2 separate regions of the Homo sapiens genome follow, and region 1 is linked to region 2. The links come from fine-mapping of genetic effects on gene expression. Tissue or cell type: whole blood. Region 2 holds a variant in brackets; the other region holds the start of a gene. All regions are shown on one strand. Distances are between the middles of the regions.

Region 1 (8,169 bases), 140 kb before region 2:
AATGGGAGAAAAATTTTGCAAACTATGCATCTGACAAATGTCTAACATCAGCATCTCTAAGGAATTTTTTAAAATTTATGAGAAAAAACAACCCCAATAAAAGTAGGCAAAGGACATGAACAGGAACTTTTCAAAAGAAGACATACATGTGGCCAACAATCATATGAAAAGAAAGCTCAACATCACTGATTATTAGAGAAATGCAAATCCCAACCACAATGAGATACCATCTCACACCAGTCAGAAGAGCTATTATTAAAATAACAGATGCTGGCGAGGACGTGAAGAAAAAGGAATGCTTATACACTGCTGCAGGGAGTGTAAATTAGTTCAATCATTGTGGAAGACAGGGTGGCCTAGAGACTGAAATACCACTCAACCCAGCAATCCCATTACTGAATATATACCCAGAGAAATATAATCGTTCTGTCATAAAGACACATGCACACGTCTGTTCACTGCAGCACTATTCACAATAGCAAAGACATGGAATCAACCTAAATGCCCATCAGTGGTAGACTGGATAAAGAAAATGTGGTACATATACACCATGGAATACTATGCAGCCATAAGAAAGAACGAGATCAAGTCCTTTGCAGGGACATGGATGGAGCTAGAGGCCATTATCCTTAGCCAACTAATGCGGGAACAGAAAACCAAATACCAAACGTTCTCACTTACAAGTGGGAGATAAATATTGAGTACACATGGACACAAAGAAGGAAACCATAGACACTGGAGCCTACTTGAGGGTGGAGGGTGGGAGGAGGGAGAAGATTGAAAAAATAACTGATGGGCACTAGACTTAATACCTGGGTGACAAAATTATCTGTACAAGAAACCGCCATGATACAAGTTCCCCTGAACTTAAAAGTTAAATAAATTCTTTTTAATTTGGCTCTTTCACTTATTAGCTATGTGATTAGCTATGTGATCAAAGGCAAGTTTTTTAAGTCTTCTGAATTTGTTTTTTTACCTGCAAAATATGGATATTAATATGTCACTGTGCCTGACACATAAGATCTCAATAAACCATGTTAAATGAAACATATCAAACTGATATGTTTATTGTAATTAAACTGCTTACAATAGACTTGATGCAGAAATGGTGCTAGATATTCATAAATCTGTTGGCACCAATGAAGAGTTGCTGCATCAATAAAGATTTGGTACAGACAGACTTACAAAGAATATACATTAACAGCAAACCACATACACTTTATCATCTGTATGATCCTTCCCCACACGACTGATTAAGAAAAACAAATCTCACATACCTAGATGGCTCAAAAGCACTATCCTCCACTAATGGGGGGGATAACGGCAATTTCGTCTCCAGGCTGAAGCACGAGGAGCTGATCTCCAAGCTCGACATATTCTTGACGAACAGCAAATATTATCTGATTTCTAACATCAGCCAATCTAAAGGGGAAAAAATATGACTCAAAGTATCAACGCTATGATAGACCTCAAATCGCTTCAGCTGCAATTAGAGATATTACATAGATATAATTATATAAAGCATCACCTGCAAAATTACCAATTAAATTTACACATAGTATATGGAGAAAGGACATATCCACTGAAGAACATACTTATACACCACAAAGATACGTTAAACTGCTGTCAACTCTTTATTGGATGTTGTATGCCTTGGGGAATTAAACAACAAAAAAATGCACAAAAAACCCACCAGACTGGAGGCAACACTCAAACCAGGTCAAAAGAAAAGTTTCCAATCAGTACATGGCCTTTCCAGGGTCCTTCTATCCATGTGTTCAAGCACAAGTATAACTGCCCACAAACTATGCCTGTACACATTATCCTACTCGAATATGGATTAAGTTGCTTAGAAAGATGAAAAAGATAGCATAGGTCATAAAGCCACCTGCAACACAGCTTTATTAGCTGTTCCTTTATACCTGAACAATGGTAAGCTTTCTTTTCAGGCACAGTGAAAACGTATACAAGACCTGCTGTCTCCCTCCAGGTAAAGCAGAATGGGAGACCCCACTGTGTTTTATTGATTATCAGGCCACTGTAAGAGCAACTTAAAAGATACGAAATCATGAAGTGGTTTGCTTTTAAACACTTATTATGGAGTATCTTTTACACAGAACTAGGACTTCCAGGTTAAACACCTATACAAGCTAAGTAACACCATTAATATTCCTGAATCACCCTCAAATAAGTCACTTTTATATTTTGTTCCAAAAAGAACTTGAAGTGGGAATGACATAAGTAAAATTATAGGTTTTTCAAGAACCAGAAAAAAAATTAAATATTACAAAAACTCAAATTCAGCAGCATCTAGGATTTGTTGTAACTCATTTTTCTTTCAATCTTAGAAATTTCTATGTTGAGCTCTCTAAAGAGAGGGGCAGAACAAAATGTTTAAAGCACACATTTTTAACAGAATTTGTAACAATTTCATTTAATGTTATAAAATTGCAGAAGTGACATGTGCAGTGTTTTGTAAATTATCAAAGAGAATATAATCATGTCCCTCTGCGGTTCACTGTGTTTTGGGGTAAAATATCTTTAACCTTTCTTAAAATACGGTGCACATTTAGAGTTTTTCAGGTGTTCCAAAAAAAATACAACTAACGATTCTTTTTGACATTAAGCACGGAAATCGAAATTAACCTTTTTACTTTTATCATTTATGTATTTTGAAAATATCTAAGTGTTACTCATATGCATTCTACAAATTTTTAACTACCCAGGATGTCGAGTTTCTATCTCCTTCCACAGCTGCAACGCTTTTATTTCTTGAGGCACAGAAATGGTCTCTGAACGAACTCCTGTTATTTCAGCACTTTTTGCAAAATACAATACTTCAACCTGAAAGTAAAGAAAATGCTTTTAATAACAACTCATACTCGTTTTCTGACTGTCAATGTTGAGCAGTTTTCTCATTTTCCAAATGTATTGCTTTAATCAAAGACAAATTTTATAAAGAAAATTAAATAACCCGTAAAAAATTTCAGTATACCTACAAGTTCAAATTCTGAAAACTTGTTGTTTTAAATACAATTCAGACTAATTTCTGGATGCCTTTTAGTTTTACAAACTTAAGTGTGCCATCATTAAAATCCTAAGTATTTATCTTCTAGGAAAACATGTTAAGCCTGCCTTAATTGACATAAAAGTATAGCACCTTTTATAAATATGTAAGCAAAGAACAAATGTTTGAGTCAAGAGATGAGTTACACAAATAAAATAAATGAATAAATAAGCGAAAAACCTGTTTCTCACGGTTGTCAAATGACCTTAGATTCCGGTCTGTATAACATCGTCCCCAGACGCTAAGGATTAAGTTATGCAACATAGTAAATCTGACATTTACAGAAGCAAGTAGGTTTGAAACACACGACAGACTGGAATTTGCTAGAACAAACTTGTGCCAGCAGCCTGGTATGTAAGGGATCCGACGAAGTAAAATAGGCACCTGTCACTCCGTGCAAACAACTCTTTACGAAATAATTACAGGTTTGCAAATGATCAAGGGTGTAGAAATCCACAGATGAAGCACAGTTCTTCACAAGAATTCTCCATGAGGTGCATTTCTTTTTAGATTAAAATTTTAGCTTCATCAAAACGAATAATCTGGGAAAGAGGTGGTCATAAAAGGTGGAGGCGCCTTCAGAACGAGTCCGTCCTTGCTGCCGTGAGCTGACAAGAGTTCTCGGAGAGGACCCGACTTCTGCTGGGGCAGTCGCAGTAAAGCCCGGAGACAGGAAGGGCCCGGGGGCGGGGGCGGGGGCGCCCCCGAACCCAAGACGCCGGCCAGGTTGGGGGCTAGTGGGGAGGTCCGACTGACCAAGGCTGGGTATGTGGAGGGAAAGGGCGGGAGAGACACGTCGAGGAGGGCTCCGCACCCAGGCCCGCACGCACACCCGCCACCCTTACCTGGCACAGCGGCACCATCCCGCCTAGGACAGCGGGACCGAATCACGGCCGCAAAGGCGCAGGCGCGGGCTCACCCGGAGCGCAGGCGTAACCCGACGGCGCTCAGCCCCCGCCTGCGCCTGCACGGAGCATGCGCACAACCAGCTCCGCCCCGCGCCGGGCTCTAGCTGTTTCCCTCAGGCGGCCTGTTCCACGCCAGGATTAGTTTTGCTTCGCAGATGGGCCGTGGTGGTGAGAGGAAGCAATCAGTATGGAAATGGAGAAATGGCTTACCATGCATGTCCTTCTCCCCAGGAGGGAGGTCGTGGTGCAGGCGAGCAGACGCCAGACTCCTGGACACTTGCCGCCTGCGTTATGGAGGCTTAGCTAATAACCTTGCAGGGGTCTTCAGGCTTTTCCACTGGCTCACCTTTAGGCTTCTGACACTTTTACCTACGGTATGTGAACCTCGAAAATTTGAGACAGGTCTCAGTTAACTTAGAAAGTTTATTTTGCCAACGTTGAGGACATGCCCGTGACACAGCCTCAGGAAGTCCTGAGGACATGTGCCCAAGGTGGTCAGGGCACAGCTTGGTTTTATACATTTTGGGGAGACAGGAGACATCAATCAATATGTAAAAAGTACATTAGTTCCTTCCAGAAAGGCGGAGACCGTTAAAAGCAAGCCCCGCCCCCCCCAACTGGGGGCTTCCAGGTAGGTAATAGACAGTAGCATTCTTTTGAGTTTCTGATAAGTCTTTCTAAAGGAGGCAATCAGAATATGCATCTATTCTTTGTCAGCAAAAGAGGTGACTTGGATAGAATAGGAGGCAGATTTGCCCTGAGTAATTCCCAGTTTGAAGGGGCCCAAGATTTTTTTCTTTCCCAGGTATATGATTAGTGTTTCTTAAAGACAGAATATCCGCCTGGTCAGAACATTCGAACTGTATGACTTTTCCTGTTTATTGGCTGCTCGGTAATTGTATACTGTCCGTCCAACTTTCCCAATTCTTGCCAACAAGAACTCTTGGCTTTAAATTGCTTGCGTCGTTAAGTGGATGTAAGTTACACGTCCCTTTCCTTGGAGCTCACAGTCCTGGGTAGGAGAGTTTTAAATATGAATGATAATTCCCTGTAATACTAAGGATCTGTGTTACATTTCAAGGGTGGAAGGGGAAAGTGGTTGTGTCACCTGGGGAGTGAGAAGATGCTGAGAAGGTAAATCTGCTAGAATGGTGGCAGTAAATGACAAGAGTGGGAGTAGAGCACGAAGAAATTTCACTTGCCTCTGACAAGCCACAGGGATATGAAGAAGCATAATAAGTTCACAGAAGGGCAAGTAGTTGGCAAGGCAGGTGTGCCTCCAGCAAAGGAGGTGATGAGAAGTGAGGCTGGAGAGTCCTTGGTAGGAAAAATTGACAAGGAGCAATGAATACCAATGTGTATCCTGGTAAAGTTGCTAAACATAAAGGATAAAGACTATATTCACACCCAGGCATAAAAACAAGGGAATGACAATAGTGGCCTTAGACTCCTCAGTGGCATCTGATGGCAATGTGCAGTGTGTAAAAAAGGCTGAGAACAAAAGCATGATCCCATAATATTACAGCCAAACTGGTGGGGCAGGATTCTCCTAAATCAGCAAAAACTCAAAAAACACAATACCCAAGAACCCTTCTTAAAAATCTTTCTTGGGCAAAAAGTCCACTCAATCAAGAGTAATCAAAGTAAATAACTCAGCAATAAAGGTATTAATATGGGAAAAATGAAAAACTAAAAAAACTGGCATTGAGATTTTAACCCATTCAAACGTAAAACTAAGATATCAATTATGGGATATGATTATAAAATAAAATGTAAATGACATCAGAATATTAAAAAAAAATGGAAACTGTCCAAAGTGGGAACATATAGTTACAAAATATCAATTCAGGTTTCTTAATATTTTTCATAATCTTCTTTATTTTAGAAAATATTTTAGGAGCAACTATCTTTTACAAATAAACAATAATCTGATGATTTATAATCCTATCAGTTTCACCAGTTATTTTGTTGATAAATTCAAGTAAATATAGGTCAATAATATTGCCTTGCTTTCATTTTTTTATTTTCTAATTCCTAATGAGGTGAATCTTTTCATATTTTCATTGAGCACTTATACTTCTCTGTGAAGTTTCTGTTCACATCGTTTATTCATTATGCTGTAGATATGACACAGTTCTTTTTTTTTTTACAAAATACAGCCCCATCTATAATTTGTGGATATGCAAGCAAAACTGATACCAAAATATTCCAGGCTTATTCCATAGGCTTTGATTTTACTTTTCTTATGAATTCATTAATTAAATCAGTGAATCATCACAATGGTATATAAATTATTTTAGTAATAGCAAAATGACTTTATGAACATTTGCATTTCACTTAAGCTACAATTTTTTGTGAAAACATAGTTGGAGCCACCATTTTCCCAGTTATTTTTACCATAAGGAATCCTATTTGGTTAAGAAAAAAAACAAGTTGAGGCAAAAACATTTCCATTTTGTTTTCAGATTGAAAAAAGACGAGATTCCATGAGACTAGAAATGTAGGAGCATCTCAGACCTTCACAGAACGCTCTGTTAGAAGATGAGAAACATAACGTTGCTTGTGAGAGGTGAAGCCAGCTGGACTTCCTGGGTCGAGTGGGGACTTGGAGAACTTTTCTGTCTAGCTAAAGGATTATAAGTGCACCAATCAGCACTCTGTAAAAACACACCAGTCAGCGCTCTGTGTCTAGCTAAAGGATTGTAAATGCACCAATCAGCACTCTGTAAAATGGACCAATCAGTACCCTGTAAAATGGACCAATCAGCAGGACGTGGGCAGGGACAAATAAGGGAATAACAGCTGGCGCCCCTAGCCAGCAGTGGCAACCCACTCGGATCACCTTCCATGCTGTGGAAGCTTTGTTATTTCACTTTTCACAATAAATCTTAGGGTTGCTTACTTTTTGGGTCCATGCCACCTTGAAGAGCTGTAACACTCACCACGAAGGTCTGAGGCTTCATTCTTGAAGTCAGACTAAGAACCCACCGGAAGGAACCAATTCCAGACACACGTGTAGTAGCAAATTATCAAAAATGTTCATTGCCTTTTCTGAAAAACAATTTTCCCAGAAACACCTGGCAGAATCAGAGTTCATTGTGTCAAAAGAAAAACTTTGGACAAATTAAAATGAGCAAAGAACAATTTGTGAAATGTGCCCCTCTCCCAACCAGAACAGGTTCAAAGAGACTCCAGTGCTGCCACATGATCAAAGAATTATGGACAAAAAAAGCAAATAAATTACAGGAAAAGAAAATGAGGTACAGAAACAGCTGGATTGGTTACAGCTTGGTGTTTACCTTACTTGAACAAGGTTCGAACAGTTGGCTGCCTTTGATGGGCTGCAACACAGTGATTGGTATAAGAGTAGGTTACAGCCTGTTTACACATGCAGTTAGGTTACAATTCACTGTGTGTTGAGAAACCTTTAGGCCAAACTTAAAATTTGTAAGGAGGCAGCTTTAGGCTTAACTTGATTTAAAAGTTATTAGATGTTCCATCAGTCGTTTCGCCAATAGGTAATAGGTTTTTTTGGTTTTGTTTTCTGTGCTATTAAAATAGTATATAAAACTTGTCATCATTGATTCTGATTTATCATGTTACAGTTCAGTCTCTAATTGAACTGAGCCTATTTTTTTCCGTAAAATCCAACCTATTCATCCATTTATACAGATTTTTTAAAATCTAAATATTTTATATCAAATTGCTAAAAATGTTTAGTCACATTCTTTTTCTATTGCTGCCCATATATTTTCTGCCATCATTTTCAGCTGCTAAATAGTATCTAGTCCTAGATATCTGGTTACCCATTATCAGGAACTCTTCGTGAAATGCTTTAGTGACCTTGTTTAAGTCAGTAATAAAGTTGAGATTTATAATCATATTCTATTACCAAAAAAAATACAGGTAATAGATTTTCAAATGTCAGCCCATGTCTACTCCTTTATTTCCCAGTGTGGCAGAATTTTTGAACAGTGAAAATATTTCTGTCTGAGGAAGTTTGGACTATGTGGTGTGAGATCCGTAGACATTGGACTAATGTCATTAACATATTTTAATATTTAAATTTCTTATTAAAAAATAGATAATGCAGTAGTTACTTTTTGAAGGACGACCGAAGCAGGATATTTCCCTGACCCCTTCATGGGACCCACGTCAGAGGTGTTTACTCAGCCTGCTGCCCACAACTCCTCA
Region 2 (8,201 bases):
GGAATAGAAGACACGAGCCCAGGTATCTGTCTTTGGCTCTGCTACCAGCTGTTTGCATTTATCTGAGAAAGTAATTGAGTTTCCAAGACTTTGATTTCCTTATCTATAAAATTAAAAGCAACAATTGAATTTGTTTAAAGATTTTTTGAAACACTTAAATCAGTCGATTACTGACCTTGGTGAAAACTGTTAGGGTCATCTAGTTGTTTTAACAAAACATCCCAAATTCAGAGGCTTACCACAAGAGTTTATTCTGTGATCATTATGTGACCAAATCCAGTGAGCCTGCTCCCGGAAGCTTTCTTCCATGTCTACATTGAGGAACTGAGGTTTCTTACATCTTGTGGCTCTTTCATTCCCTACACCTTGGATTCCTCTGCACCTGATCCACAAAAGAAAAAGGACAATCACTTAGTAAAAAACCTTTCATAGAAATGGCACACCTTATGTTTACTCAATTACAGCAGATTATATTATCCCACCTAGCTGCAAAGGGGACAGAGAGATGTAGTTCCTAGCTGTGCTGTCACTTTTCAGTGACAATGCTACATTACGGAAGGTGGAACACAAGTTTCGGCAGACAATCCCACAAACACCATCCTAATTAGAGCCAGTGATTCTGTGTAACCGTGGGAAAAGAAGTAATGGTGTTGGGAAAATTCAGTGAGTACCAGCATACTCGTATGGCTCCTATATTCAAGCAACACCCCATGGCACAGTTGATGGAATAGTTCATTTGCCAGGAAATATTAAGTTTTATTAATAAACTGTGGAAAGTCAGAATTTGAGCTAATATCTGCCCTACTACAGAATCTGACAGGGTCCTATGCTCTGCAGCATTTTATCCATCCAAAAGAGTCCTACCATTTCCAGTAGCAAGGTGCATTGACTCTATTTCCATCTTAAATCTGAAACCATTTCAGCCAGCTCTCTCCAGACTTCTGGCAATTATGTCTTATAAATTTCCCTGCTTAAGACTGGCTACATAATCTGTTGGTCCCAGTGAAAAATGAAAACCCAAGGCGCCTTGGTCAAAAAACAGGAAAAAGTTGCCATTAAAAGTACTAAAATATCAAGCTTTTTCCTTTCTTCTAGTGATCCCTCTCTGTCATGTTTTTTATTTGCTATCTAATGCCATCCTAAGTCAAGAAAAATTAAAATTTTAAGTTAATAACATAAATTTTACCGTTCACCTTCATATTGTGCCATGCCAATTTTAAATGTAAATATAAGAGCATTTAACTGGTAGGAGATCTCCAAAATTTCCCAGTTCATATTTACTGGCTCAACCCTGCAGGCCCTCTGAGCTGACCAGAAAGGGAAAATGCATATCAAACTCAGGAAGGTTGGAAGCAAGAAGAGAGAACTCCCCAAAACACAGAACCAATCCCTGGAGCAGTCCAAGCCACAGGTATACTTGCCAGAGAGAGTAGACGTCCTCCACCCTACTTCCACCCCTCACTACAAAGCCCTGGCTGGGGACCCAGTCCAGAGACATGGGGCATGTAGTGTGCTATCTCAGGTCCCACCAGCCACCCTTGGAGAAGTCGAGTTAGGCATCTCCCCTTCCCACTGGCCCAGCTCAGGGCAGACAGGTGAGTCCAAGAATCTTTAAACCTTTCCACCCAGAATCGCTCAGTCCCTAGATCAGGGTAGGCAATAGGCTGAATGCATGAGGTTCACCAGTGCTGGAAAGGCTGCCACCGGAGCTGCCTCCAGTTGCCACCAGCCTCCCACCCTGTCCTCCTGTATGTCCAGCCCAAGCCTCCCCCATTCTCCCACCCCCACTCCATGTCCCATCATATTTCACCTATACAACGCAAATTCAGGAATAAGATTATTAAGAATTTCAGGACTGCAATAGAAAAACATGAGGTCCTTCTGAGCATGGGCCTTGCACAGTCCTGCTGGCCACAAGCCCCATAAAGCCAGCCCGACCTCTACTTCAAATGAATCAGTCTTGAGGAATGATGTGTCTTTCCTCCAGCCAGGATGTAAATAAACCCTGAGACTCCACATGAACAAGCCTTGCCAAGGAGTCTCACTCAAAGAAACAGTCCTGTAAAATAACCATGAGTAATGAAAAATAATTCTATTATTTGCTTGTGTTATGCAAAGAGAATTTAACTCACAACTCAAAGCAATAATTTTTCAACTCCTAGTCTTCTACTTTACAATTCTCTCTCATCCAAGCTTCTCTATAGTCGTTTATTCTTCTCTTCACTTTCCTCTTTGCAGCAAAATATGTTCTCCCTGACACCAACCCCATAAAGCTTTTGCTCTCTTCCTTCCCCTCTACACTCTCCCTCAGCTGTTGTGTAAATCAACTCAGCCACTTGGTTTTCTTTCATTTTTTCCTCTGCCTTGACTGTTACTAAGGTTCTCTGATCCAAAGGGGAGCCCAGAAACTGATGCAAAGGACAACAATCTTTCCCGCTGACAAGAGTGGGAGCAGGGCACAGACTGCACATACACATTCGGCAATGATATGTGTCCTAAGTACATGTTAATAATTTCATCACACATGTTGACTTCATTTATCCCCTAGAATAGCTCTTGATGCTGTAGCCTCTAAACAGCAGCTCTCTCTCAATGACTAGTAAAAGCCACAAGCGCTAAGTTTAAAGAAAACCTGAGGGCAGAGCTCAGCTATGGCACCTGCTAACTATGTGACACTCTTTGGGTCATTTAATCTGAGCCTTTCATTTCCTCTGTGATGTGTATAAACCAGTATTTGGGGGTAACCCTGGAAGCCTAAGGAATTGACTCTTTCTCAGTCCCATATATTAATTTATATATTAATAAGTAATATTAACTGATCTTAAGAAAATGCATTTCAAGGAAAAGAGGGCGGCCTGAATTAAAGAAAAAATGTCTTTTTGGAAGAGACACTGGGTTAGTAATAGTTCATCAAAGCTTTCTGAACTTAAGTAGAATATCTCCAAACACCACTTCCTATTTTCTATTTTCCAGTTACCTATTTGTGACTAATGGTTTGACTCTCAAACTTTCCGATTAATAGTCTGACTCCCAAATACCTTGATTCCAGGAGAGAGGCCATAACTCCCAAGTACACCGATGATAATTGATGTGTCATATTATGAATTAAAATGTTGGCATTCTGAATTCATTTGTCCCTTCACAAAGGGGATACATTGTGAGAAATGTGTTAGGTGATTTCGTGATTGTGTGTACATCATAGAGTGTATTTACACAAATTTCGAATTTACCCCCCAAAATCTTTCTTTAATAATAAGTTTTTAGCTTATTATAACTTTTTTACTTTATAAGCTTTTTAGTTTTTAATTTTTTTGACTCTTTTGTAGTAATACTTGGCTTAAAAATCACGTTGCACAGCTGTACAAAAATATTTTTTCTTTATATCCTTACTCTATAAGCTTTGTTCTA[GTTT/G]TTTTTTTGTTGTTGTTGTTGTTGTTGTTGTTTTTAACTTTTTAAACTTTTTTGTTAAAAACTAAGACACAAGCACATACATTAGCTGAGGCCTACACAGGTTCAGGGTCATCAATATGCCTGTCTTCCACCTCCATATCTTACCTACTCCTGGAAGGTCTTCAGGAGCAATAACACGCATGGAGCTGTCATCTCCTATGACAATGCCTTCTTCTGGATACCTCCTGAAGGACCTGCTTGAGGCTGTTTTACAGTTCACTTTTTTTTCTTTTTTCAATAAGTAGACAAAGTACACTCTAAAATAACAATCAAAAGCATAGTTTAGGCTGGGCATGGTGGATCCCGCCTATAACCCCCTCACTTTGGGAGGCCTAGGCAGGCGAATCACCTGAGGTCAGGACTTCAAGACCAGCCTGGCCAAAAGTGGTGAAACCCCATCTCTACTAAAAATACAAAAATTAGCCAGGCATGGTGGTTTATGCCTGTAACTCCAGCTACTCGGGAGGCTGAGGCAGGAGAATCGCTTGAACCTGGGAGGCAGAGGTTGCAGTGAGCTGAGATTGTGCCACTGCACTGCAGTCTGGGTGACAGAGCCAGATTCTGTCTCAAAAAAAAAAAAAAAACATAGTTTAGTAAATACATAAACCAGTAATATAGTTATTATCATTATCAAGTATTATGTACTGTACATTACTGTATGTGTTATAGTTTTATAGGACGGGCAGCACAGTAGGTTTGTTTACACCAGCATCATCACAAACACGTGGGTAATGCATTGCACTACGACATTAGAAAAATGGCTAGGACATCACTGGGTGATAGGAATTTTTCAGCTTCATTATAATCTTGTAGGACCACCTTCGTATATGTGCCCTGTCATTGACCAAAAGGTCATGTGGCACATGACTTTATATCGGTCTTGTGTGAATTTAGGTAGTGTGAGACCATTGCTGAAATCCTGATCATTTCAGAGTATATACAATTCTATAGGTTATTAAGTTGATAAACCAAGTATAAACCTGAAATGTAGTGACCCATTAATCAATATTTCTAACTGAACTCCACCTGATACCTTAGCAATATGCAAACCTAGATGACTAAAAGCTAACTACTAGGTTGCTGTAAAAATTAAGGAGATAATGCATGTGAAAGTCTCAAGAACAAAGTCTGACATATACAGTTGCTTCAAGTTTTTATATAATAGATTTTCTTATTTACCCAATTTACATTTGTTTGAATGTGTGATCATTAAGACTACAAGGATCATTTGTGTTTAATTTCTGCTTCTAGAGGAAGAAAAAATACTCTGTGTCTTATGCTCTAACAATGGATATGGAATCTTGTCTAAGGTTTTGATCATGTTAAGAGAAAAAAATAAAATTTCAGAACTTCTGCTAGTTTTTTGGCATATGTTTTGTTTTAGGTTAGCAAATATTCTTAAACATTTTTTGCTGTAAAATGGTAGTCACCCACATTAAAAAGTCTTTTATCTTAAAACATGCTCAACAATATGCCTGGTTAAGAGTAGGGTACAGAAAGCAAAATTACATTGCATAAAAAATTAATGAGAATTTTGGGGCTGGAGTCTAGCAGGTAGACTGGGACCAGGGACAAGAAGATGAAGGCAAGGCAAAACTTAAGGAGGGCATATAGATGGCAAAAATGTGGGAGGACAGAAAATTGTTAATGAATGTTAGAGCATGGTGATTAACATTCTATTTCGCATTTTGTCTCTTCAGTGACACCCTGTAATCTCTCCATTACTGTCTCAGTTTGGGCTGCTGTAACCAATTACCACAGTGGCTCAAATGAGTTGGTGGCTCAAACAACAACTTATTTCTCATGGTTCTGGAGGCTGAAAGTACAAATTAGGGTGCCAGATGGTTGGGATTTTGGTGAAGGCCTTTTTCCTGGTTATGTCTTCAAGTGGTCTTTCCTTGGTGCTTACAAGCAGAGAAGAAGTGAGCTCTCTCCTGTCTCTTCTTATAAGGACACTACTAACCCCAGCATGAGAGCCCCACCTTCATGACCTATTACCTCCCAAAGGCCCCACTTTCAAAAACCATCACATTGGAGATTAGGGTTTTCAATATATAAGTTTGGGGGAGATAGAAACATTCAATCCAAAGCAATTATCCTCAAAGTAAAAGTCTGCTACACACCCAGGCTTGTGTCATTGGCACTTTGGAGAGTTGAAATAATCAAGGCAGTGAGCGTCCAGAAGGAAGCAAACTGGTGTGAAGAAGGGAGAGAACAGCAGTCACACAAGCCAAGATTCACAGCAGAGACAGGGAGTAATGAGAAGAAACAACCACCTCATGAAGATTTTGGAGATAAGGAATGTGGTAAAGAATGTTCATTTCTTGGTTGGCATTGAGGCTGGAGAGGGTGACCTCAGTCATCTGAAAAAATTGTAAACATTCAGGCAGCTGATTATTAGGTTCCCACTTGTGGGGCTCAGCATCCCAGAATGTACAGTGCCTGTTTATCTATCACGGTGATGGTGACAATGATGAAGGTAGCAGAGCCACAGCTGTGTGCTCCACCCTCTGGGCATCTTGGTTCTAAAAAAACCACAAACATGTACACACTTATCTATGGTTCTAAAAAAACCACAAACATGCACACGCTTATCTATGAAACTGAGACAGATGCTCCTGGCCTATTCAAATAAACACATACTTTAATCAGTCATCTTTCTGATATGCAAAACTGTAAGAGTTATTCATGTTACTTTATTTTCCAACAATTTACCCTTGCAGACATGCTCTGGTGTTAGATAACAATGTTCTGTAGGATTTATCTATGTTGAATGTTTAGAAATTTTTTTTCAATATATTTCTCTCCTCAAAACTTTATCTCTGCAAACACCTCACTTAACTTGGACCTGCAAATATTGATTTAGCATTTGATGATGCCTAAACTGAATACCTCAATGTGTGTTAGGCAAACTGAATAGTTCAATGTGTCTGACTTTATCTCTTTTCTCCTGTCTAAGTCTCTAGGTTTGAAATATCTCCTTCACCATTTTTATTATATTGAATTATTACCAAGGAAGGCTCTGCCTTTCCTTCTCAGCTAGCCGTTCTTTCAGAATCCAATCTACCCTTATTTTATCAAACATAATTCTAGATGTGTAGACAACAGCTAAGGTGAAAACTCGATCTTCTTAAAATAGTTGAAAACAAAATAAAAGGCAATGTTACTCTTCCTTCGTAAGTGTCATAGAAGTCCTTCCTTTTGGGTTTGCTGCTTTTTTTCCCCCTTTTTCTTTCCTTTTCTTTCTTTCTTTCTTTTTTTTTTTCTTTTTTGGAAGGAATAAAGAACAAGGAGACTGAACTTTTAAAAAGGGATCATTGGGTGATATTGGGCAAAATGAAAAGGAAACTCCTATGATAAAAGATTTTTGAGAATTGCCTGCGTAATACACTAAAACATTCTTTAAAGATGATATATATGCCTGCATCTTCAAAAAGCATCTTAGAGAAGAATGGAAACTTTCGGTATTCCAAAGCTCAACTTTGACATTTTTATTATTTCCTTTAAAAAATCCATCCACTTGATGAAAAGACAGAGGGCCATTGTTGTTAACTTACCAAAGAAACTTACTAGAATACAAAATATGGATTACTGTATTACAGCATATATAGTAATTTTATTTTTAGTTTCTCATTATCTTCATCCCTACCTGTCCTAAAGTTCTGTCGCCAAGTATGGATCTCTACCAGCACCAAATCTCAACCTTTTTTTTTTAACCCCTAGCACTTCCCCATCAATAATCCAGTCACCTGAGGCAATTAAAATAGGCTTATTTTATTACCAACTCAATCCACTGACAACTCAAAGCAAAACAATTAATGAACAAATGTCTGCATGTCCCCAGTTGAATTACTTGTGTGCACATTTACACACACACACACACACACACACACACACACTTCTTTGCATCATATTCTTTCCCCACTACCCAATACAAAAGCTTGGTCTATGGGACAGGTGATGGGAAGTAAGAAGAGTTTGTGACAAATTAGAAGTCAAGTTAGTCAACAAATCATAATCTCTGTCTTTTCCTGTTATAGGCTTTGCTGGATTAACCTAATCAGTACAAACTAATACAACTTTGCATTGTCTTGGCAAGATGGAAACAGTTATAAAGTATAAATTTCTACTAAAATTCTCACTAAAATAACACATCCTAAATTAAAACATTTGACCTCCCACAAGCACAGATAGATACATCTTCCTCTGGGATTCATAACATGGTGCTTGCTATATACTTGTTGCCATTTTCTTTCTGTGTTTTAAAAAAATTATTACATTGTATGACATATTATTGTATTGTTCATGGAATGTGTTTTTCTCAAACAAGTTACTGAGGCAGGACCAGCTGCATCATCTGCAAGGACCGGTGAAGATGAAAATACAGGGCCCCTTGTTCAAAAATCTAAGAATTTCAAGACAGTAACATCCGAGCATTAAGCCAAGCATCAGACCCCCTAAGCAAGGGACTCTGTGTGACTGCACAGGTTGCATGCCCATGAAGCCAGCCCTGCTTGGAGGGCAACTATCTATTTCTTATTCATATTTGTAATCCCAGAGAGTGTTGCACACAGAATCTGAGAGTAGGCCCTTAGTCAATGAATGTTGAACCAATAAACAATTTTCCAATATGCTACAGAGAAAAGTAGAATTCATTTGATATGCAAAATAAGAACGTGCCCTTGTTTTACATTTTACTTGGAATTCCTGGTGGATGAATGAGCAGTAAATTTAATCAGTTAAAGGGCATT

What was found. PIP is the estimated chance that this variant, and not a neighbour inherited with it, causes the effect.
Region 1: MOCS2 starts here. The variant in region 2 is fine-mapped to the expression of MOCS2 in whole blood (INTERVAL, PIP 0.91).

What each region holds. Positions count from the first base shown.
Region 1 is chr5:53,105,800-53,113,968 of GRCh38, forward strand. It overlaps MOCS2 (molybdenum cofactor synthesis 2), which reads right to left and starts at 3,958. Exons shown (of 7, transcript NM_004531.5): 1 at 3,452-3,958; 2 at 2,723-2,844; 3 at 1,278-1,422. The coding sequence starts at 1,375. It overlaps MOCS2-DT (MOCS2 divergent transcript), which reads left to right and starts at 4,043. Exons shown (of 2, transcript NR_104654.1): 1 at 4,043-4,349; 2 at 8,060-8,169. RefSeq lists a silencer at 3,697-3,986.
Region 2 is chr5:53,247,760-53,255,960 of GRCh38, forward strand. No RefSeq gene overlaps it. Among named protein-coding and RNA genes, the nearest start is that of MOCS2-DT, 140 kb to the left of the region's middle. The variant GTTT/G (reference allele first, on the strand shown) is at 3,409.